Linked DNA regions of Homo sapiens: region 2 is linked to region 1. A link means that fine-mapping ties the variant in region 1 to the expression of a gene that starts in the linked region. Tissue or cell type: aorta. Region 1 holds a variant in brackets; the other region holds the start of a gene. All regions are shown on one strand. Distances are from middle to middle.

Evidence for each region. PIP is the estimated chance that this variant, and not a neighbour inherited with it, causes the effect.
Region 2: SNAP25 starts here. The variant in region 1 is fine-mapped to the expression of SNAP25 in aorta (GTEx, PIP above 0.99). The same link has a PIP of 0.9 or more in tibial artery.

The regions. Positions count from the first base shown.
Region 1 is chr20:10,063,040-10,071,147 of GRCh38, reverse strand. All of the region lies in intron 3 of SNAP25-AS1 (SNAP25 antisense RNA 1), which reads left to right. Among named protein-coding and RNA genes, the nearest start is that of ANKEF1, 32 kb to the right of the region's middle. The variant T/A (reference allele first, on the strand shown) is at 3,832.
Region 2 is chr20:10,214,151-10,222,258 of GRCh38, reverse strand. SNAP25 (synaptosome associated protein 25) reads right to left here and starts at 3,429. Exons shown (of 8, transcript NM_130811.4): 1 at 3,282-3,429. SNAP25-AS1 (SNAP25 antisense RNA 1) reads left to right here and starts at 2,753. Exons shown (of 5, transcript NR_040710.1): 1 at 2,753-3,022. LOC124904959 (a long non-coding RNA gene) reads right to left here. Exons shown (of 2, transcript XR_007067723.1): 2 at 6,940-7,133.

The DNA.
Region 1 (8,108 bases):
GGCCAATAATTTGCATGTATAATTAAATGTCAGGGTAAATATTTCTAACGGTAACTTGAATCATTCAATTCTGGGCTTGAAAATTAAATCCTGAAAGCTACGCAAATGCTTGGGCAGAGAAATCCGGTAATGCTTACTTGAAATATAGAAACCTATATTTAGTACTTCATAGTGTGCCAGATAGTATAACAATTGCCTAGTGTCTATTATCCCATTAAGTTCTGATATGGTATGGATCTGTGTCCCCACCCAAATCTCATGTCAAATCATGCATGTCCCCACCCAAATCACCATGTCCCCAGTGTTGGAGAAGGGGCCTGGTGGGAGGTGAGTGGATCATGGGGACAAAGTTATCGTGAATGGTTTAGCATCGTCCGCTGCTTGATACTGTATAGTGAGTGAATTCTCATGAGAGCTGGTTGTTTAAAAGTGTGTGGCACCTCCCCACCCTCTCTCTTCTTCCTACTCTGGCCGTGAAGTGCCTCGCTGCCCCTTTGCCTTCTGCCATAATTGGAAGCTTTCTGAAGTCTCCCCTGAGCCAGAAGTTGCTATGCTTCCTGTATAGCCTGCAGAACTGTGAGCCAATTAAACCTCTTTTGTTTATAAATTACCCAGTCTCAGGTATTTTTAATAGCAGTGTAAGAATGGATGAATACAAGTTCTAATCACAAACCTATGAAGTAAGTCTGTTAGTGAGGCTGGTCAATAACCTAAAGTCCCAGTTGCTTATAACCCACCATGTCCATTGATGGGCAACTCTGCATCCTACTCCATATTTCCTAGGCTGACAGAGCGGCCGGCAGCAGAGGGGAGGATTGCTCAGAGAGCCTCACACTTGCAATCAAAAGCTCCAGCCTGGAAATGGCAAACCTCACTTCCATGCATAGCTCATTCGTCAGAACTAGTCACCTGACACCACCTAACTACAAGGGAATGGGGCAGAGAGTATAATCCTACCGTGTGTCCAAAGTGGAGAGAGCAGGAAATATTTGGTGAATAGTGCTAATCACTACTGTAGTGTGTCCCTATTTTATACATGAGAAAACAGAATCTGAGAGGTCAAACAACTTGCCAAGTCACAAAGCTAGTAAGCAGAAGAGCTAAGATGCTGTTAAAGAACAAAGCATGGATTTAACAAGTTTTTACAGCAAATTCTAAGCCTACTAATTCTGTGTCACTTAGAAAGACACAGGAAAATTAGAGATTGAACAGAGACTAGCAGATGTCTCTTGATCTCACATTTGTGAAATCTGAAATCCTTTGGCTATACTTCCAGCTGCCTACTTGAAAAGCTAGAGACTAAAAATATTGACTTTCTATTATCAGAGCTGAGTCCTTCATAAAATTGTTATGGCCCTAGGAGTTCTTGAGGATAATTTATGGATGATACAGAGCAATGTGACTTGTAATCACTTGGGAGATGCTATCAGCAATGTGAAAACCAATTGAACTTGGAAAGAAATCCACACTCCTTACTCTTCCCTGCGAGTTCCTCGATATCTGGCCCCGTCCTCTTCGTCAACCTTGTCCTAAGCTGGCTTCCCCTTGCTACCACCATCTTTGTGCAAGCTTTTCTGGTTTTCTTCCTGCTCTTCACCAAGCCAGGCTCTTTCTGGCCTCAGAGTTGTGGCAGGTATTTCCCCCTCATGTGTAGATTGCCTCCCCACGCCACTATAGAGTATCCCTTTTGAAAATTATGTGGAAATTTTTATATAATGTTTTATATTTAATTTTTGTGGATATATGGTAGTTGCATCATGGGGTACATGAGATGTTTAGATACAGGTATGCAATGTGTAATCACATCATGGAAAATGGGCTATCCATCACCCCAAGCGTCTGTCTTTTCTGGTATAAACAATCCAATTACAGTTATTTTTAAATTTACAATTAAATTACTATTGACTACAGTCACCCTATTGTGCTATCAAATACCAGGCCTTATTCATTCATTCTAATTATTGTTCGTACTCATTAACCTTTTCTACCCTGTCTCCCATTTCCCCACTACCCTTCCCAGCCTCTGGTAACCATCCTTCTACTCTCTATCTCCTTGGGTTCCATTGTTTTGATTTTTAGATCGTACAAATAGGTGACAACATGCAATGTTTGTCTTTTCTTGCCTGGCTTATTTCTCTTAATATAATGACCTCCAGTTCCACCCATGTTGCTGCAAATGACAGGGTCTCATTCTTTTTTATGGCTGAATAGTACTCCATTGTGTATAAGTACCACATTTTCTTTATCCATTCATCTCTTGATGGACACTTAGGTTGCTTCTGAATCTTGGCTATTGTGAACAGAGCTGCAACAAACATGGAAGTGCAGATATCCCTTCAATATATTGATTTCCTTTACTTTGGGTATATACCCAGCAGTGGGCTTGCTAGATCATATGGTAGCTATTTTTTTAGTTTCTTGAGGAACCTCCAAACTGTTCTCCATAGTTCATATTGAAATTTAACTGTCAATATAGTTCTATCAGGCAGTGGGGCTTTTAAGAGGTTAGTCATGAGGGCTCTGTCCTTATGAATGGGTTAATGCTGTTATCTTGGCAGTAGGCTAGTTATCTTGGGAGTTTGGCCTACTTTTTCTCTCTGTCTCACTTGCTTGTTTGCCCTTCCACCATGTTATGGTGCAACAAGAAGGCTCTCACCAGATGCAGCCCCTTGACCTTGGACTTCCCAGTCTCCAGAACTATGAACCAAATAAATGTCTATTGTTTATAAATTACACAGTTTGTGGTATTCTGTTATAGTAGCAGAAAACAGGCTAAAACACCTTTCCTCCCCTTAATCTGACAACTTCTACTCATTTTTTAGGTCTCATAGTAGACATTTCTTCAGAGAGGCACTCCCTGACTCTCAAACTAAAACTCCACCCAGTACTTTTCCATGGTAACATGCATCCCAATTTATAATAATATAGCTGTGTTTATTTAATTGCTATCTCCCTATTATGGTGGCAGGAACCAAGGGAGCAGTGAGTGCTGCGTGTAGCATTATACACCAGTGCCAAAGAGGCCAACTGGAAAATAGTAGATCCTTAGTATTTATTGAATGAAATGAATAAATGAATGACTTTTAGTCTTTAAGTAAGGATTTCAAGTGAGTTCCTAAAGTCTGAATTTGTGTTTCTCTTCTTTTAAGCTTTATCAATAATTCCATGTTAGTAATAATGAAGTGGAGACGGAAAAACCAGAAACAACCAGAAAAATTTAGATAAAAATGAAAACATTTATCCTCTCTTTTCTGGTTTTTGTTTTGTTTTCCAAAAGCCCAAAAAGAGTTAACATCTTTGGACTATTGATTTTTAGAATGAAGTATAAAGGATTTAAGAACATTTTGCTGCATTGGAGATGATTTTTACAAGTAGAAAGGATAATATAGAAAACCGCCAAGCGAATTACTGCACTTGAATCGATACATATGTTTTCTTTTTTCCTGTCAGACATTTCTTACCAAACGGTTTAAATAATATCATCTGTTCTTGTTTTTTGTGCATTCCTACTCACACATATCAAATGAAGAAAAGCCAAAGGCTTTATGAAGCACTGGAAAGAATTTTGTTGCCAACCAGTTCATGCTACTGCAATTCTGTGGGTCCATGACACAGAGGAAAATATAAGGCTATGTACTGATTTACATCACAGAACACATGGTACATCCAGGAATGAGCACCACAAGGGTAATTTTAATGCTGCAGAACACATTTATCTGCTGATATATGGTCTAGGAATACGCTGCTTTTATTCTGCCAATTCTGACTCCCACTATTCCCTCTAAAAATGGAAAAAACTCTTGCAAGGTCATTTGGAAAGAATGTTTAAAA[T/A]TACTTTTTCTTTGCTTATTTGCAATCCCTTCACTTCTTAAGAATGATTGGCAGTGTTTATGTATCCTGAAGCCTGGGGCAGAGTTAAGATTCAAACAGGAGACTAATGGAGTAAAGGAGTCCCTCTCCTAGTGGGCAGAAATTATAAGCAGCCATTTAGGTTACTTATACACCTGGGATAGCTACAAACAGCTATGTTCCCAGTGGCAAAAGGAAAGGCTAATACAGTCCAGCAGAAAAAAAATAGAAACCATTCTAAAGAACAGAGGCAGGAACTCAGGAGTACAATAGTCAGGGATGAATTAGTATAAGATAAACTCTCCACATAAAGAGGCACTGAGAAAGTACATACGTGATTTTCAGTTGTGCACAAATTTTAAAATAATTCAAGTTTATATTATGTTATAATCCCATCAATGTGGCCAGAAAATATGTGGTATATTTTGGAATGTTCAGTCATGACAGTTATGGTGTCAAATAATTAAATATTATTCAAATAATTGCACAGGTGAAGATATAGTTGCAACTGCGGTAAGTGCCGTGAAGGAAGGTGCATTGTGATCTATGAATGTATATAGGAAGAGAATTTAACTTCGTGAGGAAGGTGAGGAAGTCTGCCCTAACAAAGAGATGATTTCTCTGAGATGAAAAAGGAATGGAAAATTAAGCAGATGAGGTATTGGGGAAGAGGAGGGAGAATGAATTCCTGGACAAGGAGGATACAGTTTATGCAAAAACTTAATGGAAGGTGGGAGCATGTACATAAAATAAAATAACAGACTGTCTACAGCAGAGTGTTTAAAGGCCTGATCTGGGGGAGGAGTAAGTATGCTCAGACCGCTCAGGTGATCATAGGCCATGTTCACATACATTTTCTTATATTATTAAGAAAATCAGTAATTTTGAAAGTATTTTAATTAGATGGTAGGTAGAGTACTGAAGTAATCACTTTTCATCCTTGAAAAGACTTGTCTGGCATCAATGTATAGATAGACTGCAGGACAGAAGGAGATAAAAGAACAGATCAGAATATTTCTTACAGTTTTCTGGGTAAGATGATAAGGTAGACTACGGCGGTAAGGGTGGAGATAGTAGGAGGAAGAGTCACAAGAATTTATGAGATTAAATGGAGTTGAATTGGGGTGGGTGGGTGCTTGGGGAAGCAAGTCATGATGATATCTGGGAGTTTGGCTTTCATAGCAGAATGTTGGTGGTTCCATTACTGAACTAGAAAACACTCGAAGTAAACTAGACTTAAGGATGGGCAGTAGAGGTCTAAAGTTTGATTTGGGAATTGTTGAGTTTCAGGAGCGTTTGTAAATTCAAGAACTGATGTCAAGTATAATTAGATATGTTTCTGTAGGCTTAGATGAAATAACTACGCTTAAGACACAAATGTGGGAGTCATTCCAAGGAGAGAGTGCAAATGAGCTTGCCTAGGGAGAGCTCGTAGTGTGAGATGAAGGTTTGAAACTGAGTCTTGAGAAATTCCGACATTTAATGGTCAGGCGGAGGTTGTAGTAGCCACTTTTTTGGTTTGTTTTCTTCTCCATCTTTCTCTTCTTTCTTTATTCCTTTCTTTTCTTCCCCTCTCTTTTTTCTTCTTTTTCTTTCTTCCTTCCTGTCTCCTTTTTCCTTCCTCCCTTCATTTTTCTTCCTTCCTTCCTTTCTTTCTCTCTCTTTCTCTTTCTCTTTCTCTCTTTCCTTCTCTTTCTTTCTCTTTCCTTCTCTTTCTCTTTCTCTCTTTCCTCTTTCTTTCTCTTTCTCTTTCTTTCTCTTTCTTTCTTTCTTTTTTTTCTTTCCTTTTCCCCTTCCTCTTCCCTTCCCTTTTCTTTCTGCCTTTCCAGCATCCCTAACTCTTTTTTTGGGGAAGAATAATCCCTACTTTTTCTTGGGAGCCCACACCTATACAAGTAGCAGTCTGGTGTTTTGGGTAGAGTGACTCATTCCCTGAGTCATGGGCTGACAAAATGATCTGGCCAATCAGAATCTTGTGTCCTGTTGTATAATGACTGGTGTGGAGAAAGACCCTTGACTCAAGCCTGACCATTGAGAGTGCGATCAGGGTTTTCACAGGACCAGCTGGGAAAGAGTACCTCATTTCACTTGGAGTTCTAGGATGTAACCCTGGAGCTTCTGGTGGACATCTTTGCTACATTCTAGCTAAGGTTGGAGCTCACACAGACTAAAGCCAAGTAGAGAGAGCAAGGGAGCCAGACAGTGAGAATGTCAGCAAGCAAGGAAGAGAGAAATGGTTTTCAGGGAAGATGTTTTGCCTCCAGTCTTGCTCAATCCACCCCTTGAAATTCTGTATTAAGAATTCTCTTTTTCTAAGTCTTAATAATTCTCTTGTTATTGTCTGCTGGTGTTGAGAGTCCTGATGCAAAAAGCATGGCTACAAAGGATATTGAGAAGCACCAGGAAACTGTGGTGTTGCTAAAGTCAAGAAAATTTCTAGGACAAGGGACGAATCAGCAGAATCAAATGGAAATCCATCACTTTCCAAATCCATATGGTTGTCTTACAAATCTCTCCAGGATGTGGCTTTGGCCTCTTTTCCCTGACCATTTTTTATTTATTTCTTGTCACATTGCTTTTATTTCACTTGCTGGAATGGGTCTGCACTGCAAAATGCTGCTGCTTCTACTCAATTCCTCTCTTCCCTCTGGGTCAACTTAATTCCTCACTCATTCTTTAGAGTTCAGCTAAAATACCATTTCATTAGTGAAAATTTCCCCTATTCTGTAGCACCACTATAAGTTCATATGTTGTATAAGGTAGCGTTACCTTGCAGCTATCCTGGGGTAGCCCTCTGTTTGTCTCCTGGGATGCTTGAAGTCTGGTCAAGGTAAGAATGAAATGTGCTACTGAGGACTTTATAATGTGCAATGTGCTATTTAAAGCTCGAAATTCCCCTGGAGGCAGCCTGTATTAGCTTGTCTACATTGTTTAGGACTGTATAGACTGATAGTTTGTACCTGGTCTAACAGGGTATACAGCCTGGGTTTAGCTACATGGCTGGTGGGTATGAAAGACCCCTCAATAAATTATATACCTGGACTCACACTTACGGTGATCGTATATAATCTGAAGATAAAATGTGTCCTGTACCGAGTGATTAAAATGGACCCTGGGGGGCTGTGCCTGGAAGCCCTAGACCCCTCTGTGATCATCTGTGCTCTGTGTCCTAATGTATCCTTCACCTGTATTAAAACCTTACTCAAATACACACTGTGAAATCTTGTGAGTCTTTTGATAATCTTCAATTATTCAATCTTGTGCAATCATCTCATAAGTATTTTAGGATTATTCTATGAAAATATGCTTTTCCTACGAAACTATAAACTCCATGAGGGCAGGGGCTATTCCTGGTTTTGCATTCCATTTTATCCAGACATGCCATTGTGCTTGATACGTGATTAATCAGGATCCACATGGGAAAGCAGAAACAACTCTGAGTTCCTACAGAATGGAAGTTAATGGGAGGATTTGGTTGCACAAGCAATAGAAGAGGCTGAGGAAACAACCAGAGCACAGTGAGGCAGCCCTGAGACTAACAACAAAAGAAGCTGGTACCACCCTTGGAGGCTTAAGGGACAGAGGGAGTGGGTAGTACTACCAGAGCCTAGGGGCCAGGGTCACATGAGGGAGGCTAGGACCACAGCAGGATACACAGCTCCCCACACAGTGGGGAGTGGAGTCATGGGGGAGACAGACACAGCTGTTGACGGGGATGCCGACAAAGGCAAAGATGGAAAGGGGGAACTACCTGGCTTTTCCTCTCCTCCCTCTCTCATCTTTTGTTGTCTCCTGTTGTCTGGATCCTACTGGAAGCCAAATAATGCAGAAACCTGGGACATGCAAACTGGATGAATTGCTCTCCTGTCATGCACCATGAAGAGAGCAAGGAACAGACCTAGGATTTTCATTATCGGTGCTCAATAAATATATGCTGAATGAATAAAACCAAATTGTATGTAGAACAAGGGCTGCTGATAGATTCAGCATTCTGGCAGTAGCAACCTTGGACATCATGAAAAGTCTCAATCTCTAACTGAGACGCATGTGTTATATGGACCAGAGGTCTGCAGAGTCTGAACACACAAGGTCTGCCTAGGTACTCTCATTCCATGATTTTCTATTGCTGATCAATTCTCCTTCTGGCTGACTTGTTAGCTTTGGGAAGTGTTGGGAAGTGTTGCTTTAGTGTGAGATATATTCAGACATCAATAATACTCATTGCTCATTTAATTCTTTATGTGTTAATTTCATTATTT
Region 2 (8,108 bases), 150 kb before region 1:
AATGTTTTATTGCATTTAATTCTGGTTTTATTTATTAACTTATTGTTTATTGCTTTTATTAAGATTGCTAGATGCTAAACTTATTGAGGTCAAGACAAAACCATGAAATTTTATAACTCCCATGGGATTCATTTCTGTATCCGGTGAATACCGATTGATCAGTATCTTCCTATCAGGTTGGTACTTGCTGACAAGGGATGACATTGCAGAAAGTATCCAGCGCTGAGGCTTAAAACACAGATTTTTCCTTCTTTTATAGAATTGTAAAGCAGTCCCATAATGTGAGAAACATTGTTTATTCATAGTGAATTATCTAAAAAGCATATTTTCTATTTTTCTCCTTCATGTCTCCTCTCTCAACCTCTTTCTCAGATTATTTTTCTCGTTTCTACTAATCGTCAAAACCTACGTGTTATGCTGAAGGCTGACTGCTTACGCAGCTTCTAGGTGTCACTGGCAGAAACATGTCTTTCAGCTGATAACCCTCACTCAAGGGTTAACATTTAGAGCTTGGGAATATCTTTAGACAAGCTAATTAACGGGTAGTTTGCATTGTGTTTGTGCATGTGTGGTTGTGCGTGTTTAACAAAGTAAAAATAAAATTGTGAATTCTTGGGAGATTTTGCCATGAAGAGGTTAAGAGGATTGTAAATTGTTCTGTAATTTGAACACTGAGGTGGTAATGCAGTAAATGCCGATGAACAAACAGGCATCAGAGGGTCTGTGTGAATGACTCCTGGCTCATCCTATGTCCATCTGCTCCTGCCTCTTCTCACCGCATTGCCCTGGATTTTAAAAATTCTAACTTAAAATGGGAAATTTCTCGATTTTTTTTCCCTGGAAGCTTGTCAATGATATAAATGTTAAATTCATGGTTCAATGATATATTTTTTAAATTTCTCAGTAAGCTATTCTAAAATTAGCTTTCTAATTGTGCACATTGCTTCTTCCTCTCAGCTCTGTGCCCTTTGCCATCTTCACTGCGGTCCTCTACTTCCCCCGCTCCTCCCCAGTCTTCCACTAGCAAACAAACCCAGCAGTAATTACTAATGTCCAAGCACGTAATTCCGGCAGCATTAGGCTTTTCATTTGACGCAACTACGCAGACAGCTGTCTGGACATGCAGCATGAAGTTAAAGCATTTTTAAAGATTCCTGCCCATATTTTCTCTCCTCCACTACTAAAACACAGTTGTTTATTTTTGTCTGCAGATTGCAAAGTTATAAACTTCTTTTATACGTTTACATACTCATATATAAATGTCCACCCAAATAATTTTACATCCATGCAAAATAACAGATCAACATATACATACATGGAAACACATGGTCATCTATAAAAAGAAAAAACACTAGGAAATAATTAAATAGCAGCGAATGAAATTACCTTCTGTATATGGACAGGGAATTTTAGTGTCTGTAGCATACAGATGATAGGAGGTATGACTATCTAAACACAATCCAAGTTCTCATTTGGGGTCTTTTAAGGGGATCATGATAGCGTTTCTTTAATGCATTGTATAGATTATTACATATGACGCTGTTACTCTTTTTTGCTAATGACTCAAATGGCATAATTTTGACTCTGGTCATTTTTATGCCAGTTTTATCTACATCAAACAGAGAGAAATACCCCTGATGACTTTTGCTCTCTCAGATGCTCCAAGCCTCAGAGTAGAAAATGGTTAAAGTAGTTATTACCACCTCAGCAAAATCCCGCAGTGCCATAAGAGAAATTGCAGTAGACCTTTAGGTCAGAGTTAAGTTCTAGTTTAACACCATGGTTCTTTACCTGCATTACCCTGAAGGACACACTTGGATTCTCCTGAGGAAGGCCAGTCTTAATATTGTCAAAATCTAAAGCTATCAGCCTGCGATAACCAGTGCTGATAGCAAATACTTCCAGTAACTCTGAAACCGTGGCCAAAGAGGTTAAATCTATTCAGTACAGGACCAGTAAAATTTCTCAGATATGTGTTTTTGTGGATGAATGCTTGTATTCATGCCTGATTGCAAGGATGGGGGAAGAAGGAAAAGGAAGAGTGATTCATTCTTAAAGTTGATTCTGCTTAGTTCAGCTAATCTCACATTTTTATCAAATGGAAACATAGAGAGAGATGTATCATCCCTATAAACAGATAGCATTGGCTTCTTCATATATACAGTACTTATGCTCACCCAAGATCTGTAGACAGATCTACTCTGTGTTAAAAAACAAAACCAAACAAAAACCTTGATACCCTGCTGGAGGATAAATCCATATTTTTTAAAAAATGTATTTATTTTCTACGTAAAATAAGGGTCAGAGGGCAACACAGAAGATTTCCACAAGTAGACTATTTTGTTGAAGCTATGCAGGAGGTGAGGAGGGGAACAGGAAATTGTCTGCAAAGGAGTCTCTGTGAGGAAGATTTATTTCTTTCTTGTTTTCTTTTAAGCTACTATGACTCCTCTATTAAGGGTCTCCGTAAGACCGGGGTCTCAGGGAGACAATTTGGTCTCCAGCCCTGGCACATCCAGCCCCGGCCAGGCATTTCTGCCGCAGGCAGATGAGGCGCTGCGGCCGGACCGCTGTCCCCGGTGCTGAAAGGTCGAGGGCGCCCGCGCGAGCCCTCGGTGTTGCTATCCAGGGTGCTGAGCGCGGGCCGCCGCAGTCCCCGAAGCCAGCCCACCCGCGCCAGCCCTCCGCAGAGCCCTCCCACCCGGCACGACCCGCCCGCCTCCCGCCAGCCTGCAGTTGACGTGGAGCAGGCGGCATAAATCAAGTCCGCGGGGCATGGAGGCTGCTGTCGCTGCAGCAGCTCAGCTTGCCCGGGGCGGGAACTCCCCCTTTCTCCTTTCGCCTCCCCAGCACCCACACCCTGTCTCCCCCTTAATTCTTCCCTGGATAATAGCACCCTAACGACAACAGTCATAATAATAGGGTTAGAACGACAGGGGAGGAAAACTCAACAGCCTAAATATCTCTGAAAACTGCATCGCAAAATGGAAGAAAGAGGGGGTCCCACTACTGTTTCAAAAGAGTAAGTTATTATTCGGTACGTACCCTCGCTCTTCCTCCCCGTCGCTCCATTTGCAGGGCTCCCGTTTCCCTTTTCCCCAGCAGCTCACCTCGAAAACACTTTATAAAGCCCCCACCAGACGTGCACACACGGAATACCGCACCCTAAGTGCACCAATACTTGTATTTACCCAAGCCCACTCGGACTGCCCAGCTGCTGTCCCTTCTGGGTATGCAGCCATCCCGAGCCAGAGCCACGACCTGGGGAGGGGGGTTCTTACCTGGGCTTCTCGGGAGGGTTGTGTTCTCCGGGCCTCTGCAGGTTGCAACTGTGGTGGAGCCGCCGAGCAGGGAGGGAAGGAAAGACAGCGCCTGACCTCCCCGAGGTTTCGTCTTCAATGCAACGTGAGCTCTGCCCTCATCAAAGATGGCCGTCCGTTTTGACGTCAGCAGCTTTTAATAGCCGCCCAGCGAGGGGCGGGAGGAAGTGGGGGCGGGGCACGGCGGGGGCGGGGGCGGGGCCCGGGCTGCGGCGCGCTTGACTCGGTTCCCAGTGCGCTGGCCTGCAAACCTGCGTGTTTTCACCTTCTATAAACACCCGCACGGGGCGACTCTTATGACTCCATTTTAACACTCGGTCTTGGGCAAACGCGTTCATCCCGCAACTGCATTCCTGATGTTCTTTGGTGTGTGTGCGTGTGTGTGTACATATGTGTATATGTGTGTGTATGTATATATGTATGTGTGTGTATATTTTATAATACATGTATAATATATGTATAATTTGTGTGTATGTGTATATATTCCCCCCCACCCCCACCCCCACCCCCTTTCAGTGGAATCTGTGGTTGAGTCATCTAAGGAGAGGGGAAGGCAGAGGAGGGGTAAAAGGTAGTGATGGGAGGGGTGGGGGAAATTTCAGCGGCGATTTGTTTTCTCCGAAGAGGGTCCGTAGGGGCATCCCCGTCCACCCTCGCCAGCTCCATATATGGCCAGGCTACGTGGGTTGCTATTTTTATGAGTGATTGCTTCATGTTATCGAAGCAGCGTCGAGGGCTTGTGGCTCTCGTTGCTGTGGTCAGCCGGGCAGCGAGGCTGGCGCACGTTATTTTGAACTACGTCAGAGCCAGGCTCTCTGAGCTGTTGCAGGAGTCGGGGGAAGGAGAAGGGAAGCGGAGTTAGCCCAGCCAGCGTGGGTTTGCAAGGACTCGAGGCTTGAAGTTGAGTTGTTTGCCGAGGGCAAAAACGGATGACTCTGCTTTCGGTGGAATTTGCAGTCGGTGCTGGGGTTTCATGCTGGGTGTCTTAGGGGTACCCCACGGAGGCACAGACGCCCCGAGGGAACCGTCCAAACGGCCGGGAGGAGGTGGGGGATTCAGAGCAAGGACGGCTGGGACACGGCCGAATCTGGGGGTTCACTCAGTGCGCAAACCCCGGGGTACCCGTGCAGGCTGCCTCGGGGGGCCCTCGGATGCTCAAATCAGGGCGGGGAGACAAAGGCTACTTGTGCTGGTCGTATTAGAGATTAAAAGTGATAATTATAAAGCAACAACCCTAACTGTCCTCCCTGGCCGTGCCCGGGCCCGGGAAGGGGGTGGTGCGCGGATCGCTCGGCGGTGGCAGCCTCCCGGATGATTCACAGGTGTTGGGGAGGCTGTCGCGGGGCTCTCCGCAGGGAGGGAGGGCTGGGGAGCGCGTGGGAGGTGGGGGACCTCGTCTGAGGAACTGTTTGTACTTTTCCGGGAAGGATGCGATTAGAAGTCGTGCCTCGCAATGTTAAAACTTGATGGCCTCTTTTAGGCTATGGAAAATCCTTGTCTCGCTTAGGAGAAACCATTTAGAGCTGGGTTCGGAAAAGCGGCGTACAACCTCTCCCCTTGCACCCTCGCCCCCCACCCCCGCCCCACCACACACACACACACACACACACACACACACACACACACATCCCTAGCTGGCCTGAGAGCCAAGCTTAGGCAATAATACGGCCTTTGATTGCGCTCCATTGCGGAGGGAGGGAAGCGGGGTAGGGGGAAGGGAAGAAGAGTTGTGAAGGCGCTGCGTTTAGAAAGAGACGGGTTGTTAAGAATTTAATAAAGGATACCTTTAATCGAAATTAGTAGACATAATTGTTTCTTAAAGATTCCCTGGCCTGAAGGCTTTTTTTTGACGTATTGATGTTTTTGCCATAATAATTAACAGTGTTTGGATGTTAATTAAAGCCAAATTCCTAAAAAAGGCATGTTGCTGAAATTTGTTTACTTAAATATTCATTAAACATTTAAGATTGCCATACAATAAAGAAGAAAATCTGCAAAGTCCTTAGATACTTAATTGCCAATAAAAGTCTCTTGAGTATGGCTCTTACTTTCATTATAAAGCAAGTTGGAATAGGGGGAAAGGGGTTTGAATGCAATGTACTGCAAAATCCTTTGTAGTCAGAATTTTTTCCAAAGTGTGACACTTTAAAAAAAGGCAGCATGCGGAAGTTTGAAGAGAAAAAAAAACCTGCAGAGGGAGAAAAAAAAATGTGTGTATGGCCCTCAGACTAGAAATCATTCAGGCAGAAAGTTTTGTGAAGGAATGGAGGAGGTGGGGGATTTTCCAAGTTAAAAAAAAAAAAGAAGTTAAAAAGCAACTACGTCAGTGATGGAGGCTTATCCTGCAGGCAAAAGCTATGTAGCAGTCACAGGGAAGGACTGGCTTGGTATTCTGAGTTTTCAACTGCTGATGCCCCACACTGACATCTATAAAAATGACAGACAAGAAGAGAGAGGCAGACTGTTTCAAGGCATTACAGAAAATACCATGGACCCTACAAGATTAGCTGGTGGTGGTGACAATGTTTTCCATTGCTAGTGCTTGTTGTGAAAATGATGCTGTTTGAGAGGTTCTTAGAGGTTCTTCATCTTGCTCTGGGAAAGGTAACAGAGTGTAATTTGAGATACATAAACATTGGGTACATAAAAATCTGCTAGGGATGACCAGATAACCCTAAATGTATTTTGAATAGGATAATGAGATTTTTTTCCCTTAGGATTTTCTCACGGCATGATTAAAGCAAAACAAAAACAAACAAGAAAACGTCATCATCTTTGCCAGTAGAGAACCAGCAGATTCATGATACTCAGGGTTTGCAAAGGCCTGAACCACACAGGGAAGGAAGGTGATGGAAAATTTGTTCCAAAATGGTTCAGCTGCTATGGGTTATTTCTGCAAAGAACTAACACACAGAGTATCTAATGCTTAGGATGAGTAACGAGAAAATTACCTGCTCTGCTAGATGGATATTTACACTGTGATAATTCAAGCCTCTGAAAGCTTTTTTGGTACATTATGCCCCAAAGTATTCTGGTTTGCAGTAGCTCTAGGTCCAAGGTATTTAGCTTGTATCTCCAAGGTAAGGTGCAAGATTCATAGTTGACTCAATAACTACAATTTTATAAGTCATAATAATAATAACTTTTCTAAAATCCCATGTGATCTTTCCAAAGTCAACTTGGAAGCAGTTTAGAGATAGCCCAGCTCAGAAGCCCTCTCTCCAGGGTCCTCCTTTGGGACATGCCTGGCACCCTATGACAATGTTTCAAAACACTGTGAGGGCAAAGAATATTCAGTTCTGCGCAAGAATATTCAGTTTGATAGAGCAACTGTTTTGATTCCTTGGTTTGCTTTCCAAGTGGTTTGCTTGCCACTTTCTCTTCATATATTCTTCTAGCCCTTAATCCAGCCCCCCACCCCATTTATATATAGTGAAGTAGCGGTACCTTAAAATGCCTCGAGTAGTTTAACTCTAGGTTTAAACTATCCAGGCTGTTCTTGTTCCCTGAAGCCTCTAAGGTAGATATAGATCTTGTGAAAGGTAAAAAGAGAACCAGGAATATTAGTTGCTGTTTCTGGTTTGCCAGGTTAAGAAAAAATAGGACTGTACACTCAGAATATTAAATAACACTTTATTCTTTATTACAGACAGTATGGTGAGAAGGAAGAAGGGGAGTGTCCAGCAGCCACAGGCTGGATGTTTCCACACTTTTGTTCCTTGATGCACCAAAATTACAGACTTTCTTTTACAATGCATCCTAGGACCCTTCCCAATGCTGAGACACGCCTGTGGTCCAGTAGGGAGGAAGAACCTGTGACAATTAGGAACAGAGAGGCAGAGAAAATGGTAGTCCAAATTAGTACACTTCAAAAAGGCTATTTGTTAGGGATCACAGTATTCCTTGAGTAAATCTTTTAGGAATCATATTAGTTCTGTAACCTCTTTGTATCTCAATTATCTCATAGGTAAAATGGAGACAATAATTATAGCAAATACACAAGGAAATTATGAAGCACTGAGTGTCATGTCTAGCACTATGAAGTATTGGCTAAATAAAATCTATCATTTTGATGAGACTTTAACTTTATTTCTCTAAGAAATGACATGTAGCTTGGCTTTAATATGGAGGATTGCCATTTTTTTCATTAGCTATTAATTAGATATGTATCAATCATACTGGGCCTTGTTTTTTTCATCTATATGAACTTATTCATTTACTCAATATCGAACACCTGCCATATGCTTAGCACTGGGGTCTAGGAAAAATTGAGTAGAGAGTTGAGGGTTAGAGCGGTTAAATAACCAGGCCAAGGACACAGCTAAGAAATGGGATAGCTGGGGTTTGAACCCCAGGGCCCAAGCTCATAATCACTATGTTTTAGTACAGCCTCCTCCAGCTCCATCAGACTCCTTTCTGCCCTCTGCAGCTACCTTCTCTGCCTCAACACACTGTGGCTTGCATATGCCTTTTCTCATTAGCAACTTCAGGGTTTCGTTTGCTAGAGGGATGAGTATGAATTACTGGTTTGGTTGGCTGAATCACAAGGTTTCGCTGTGGCGAATTTCAAGAAAGAAGTCTAGGCTGTTAACCTGAGGTGAACAGAAACAACATATTCAAAGGAAGAGAGTTCAAATTACAATCAAGGAGGGAATTCAGAGATCAATATCCAATAAACAGCTTAAATAAGAATCAGGGCAGAAAATGCTCTCAAAATATACCTAAGCAAGTCAGCCAGAGGTCAGAACAGAATGGCAATGTGGATCAGTGGTTTTGAGGCAGATGATA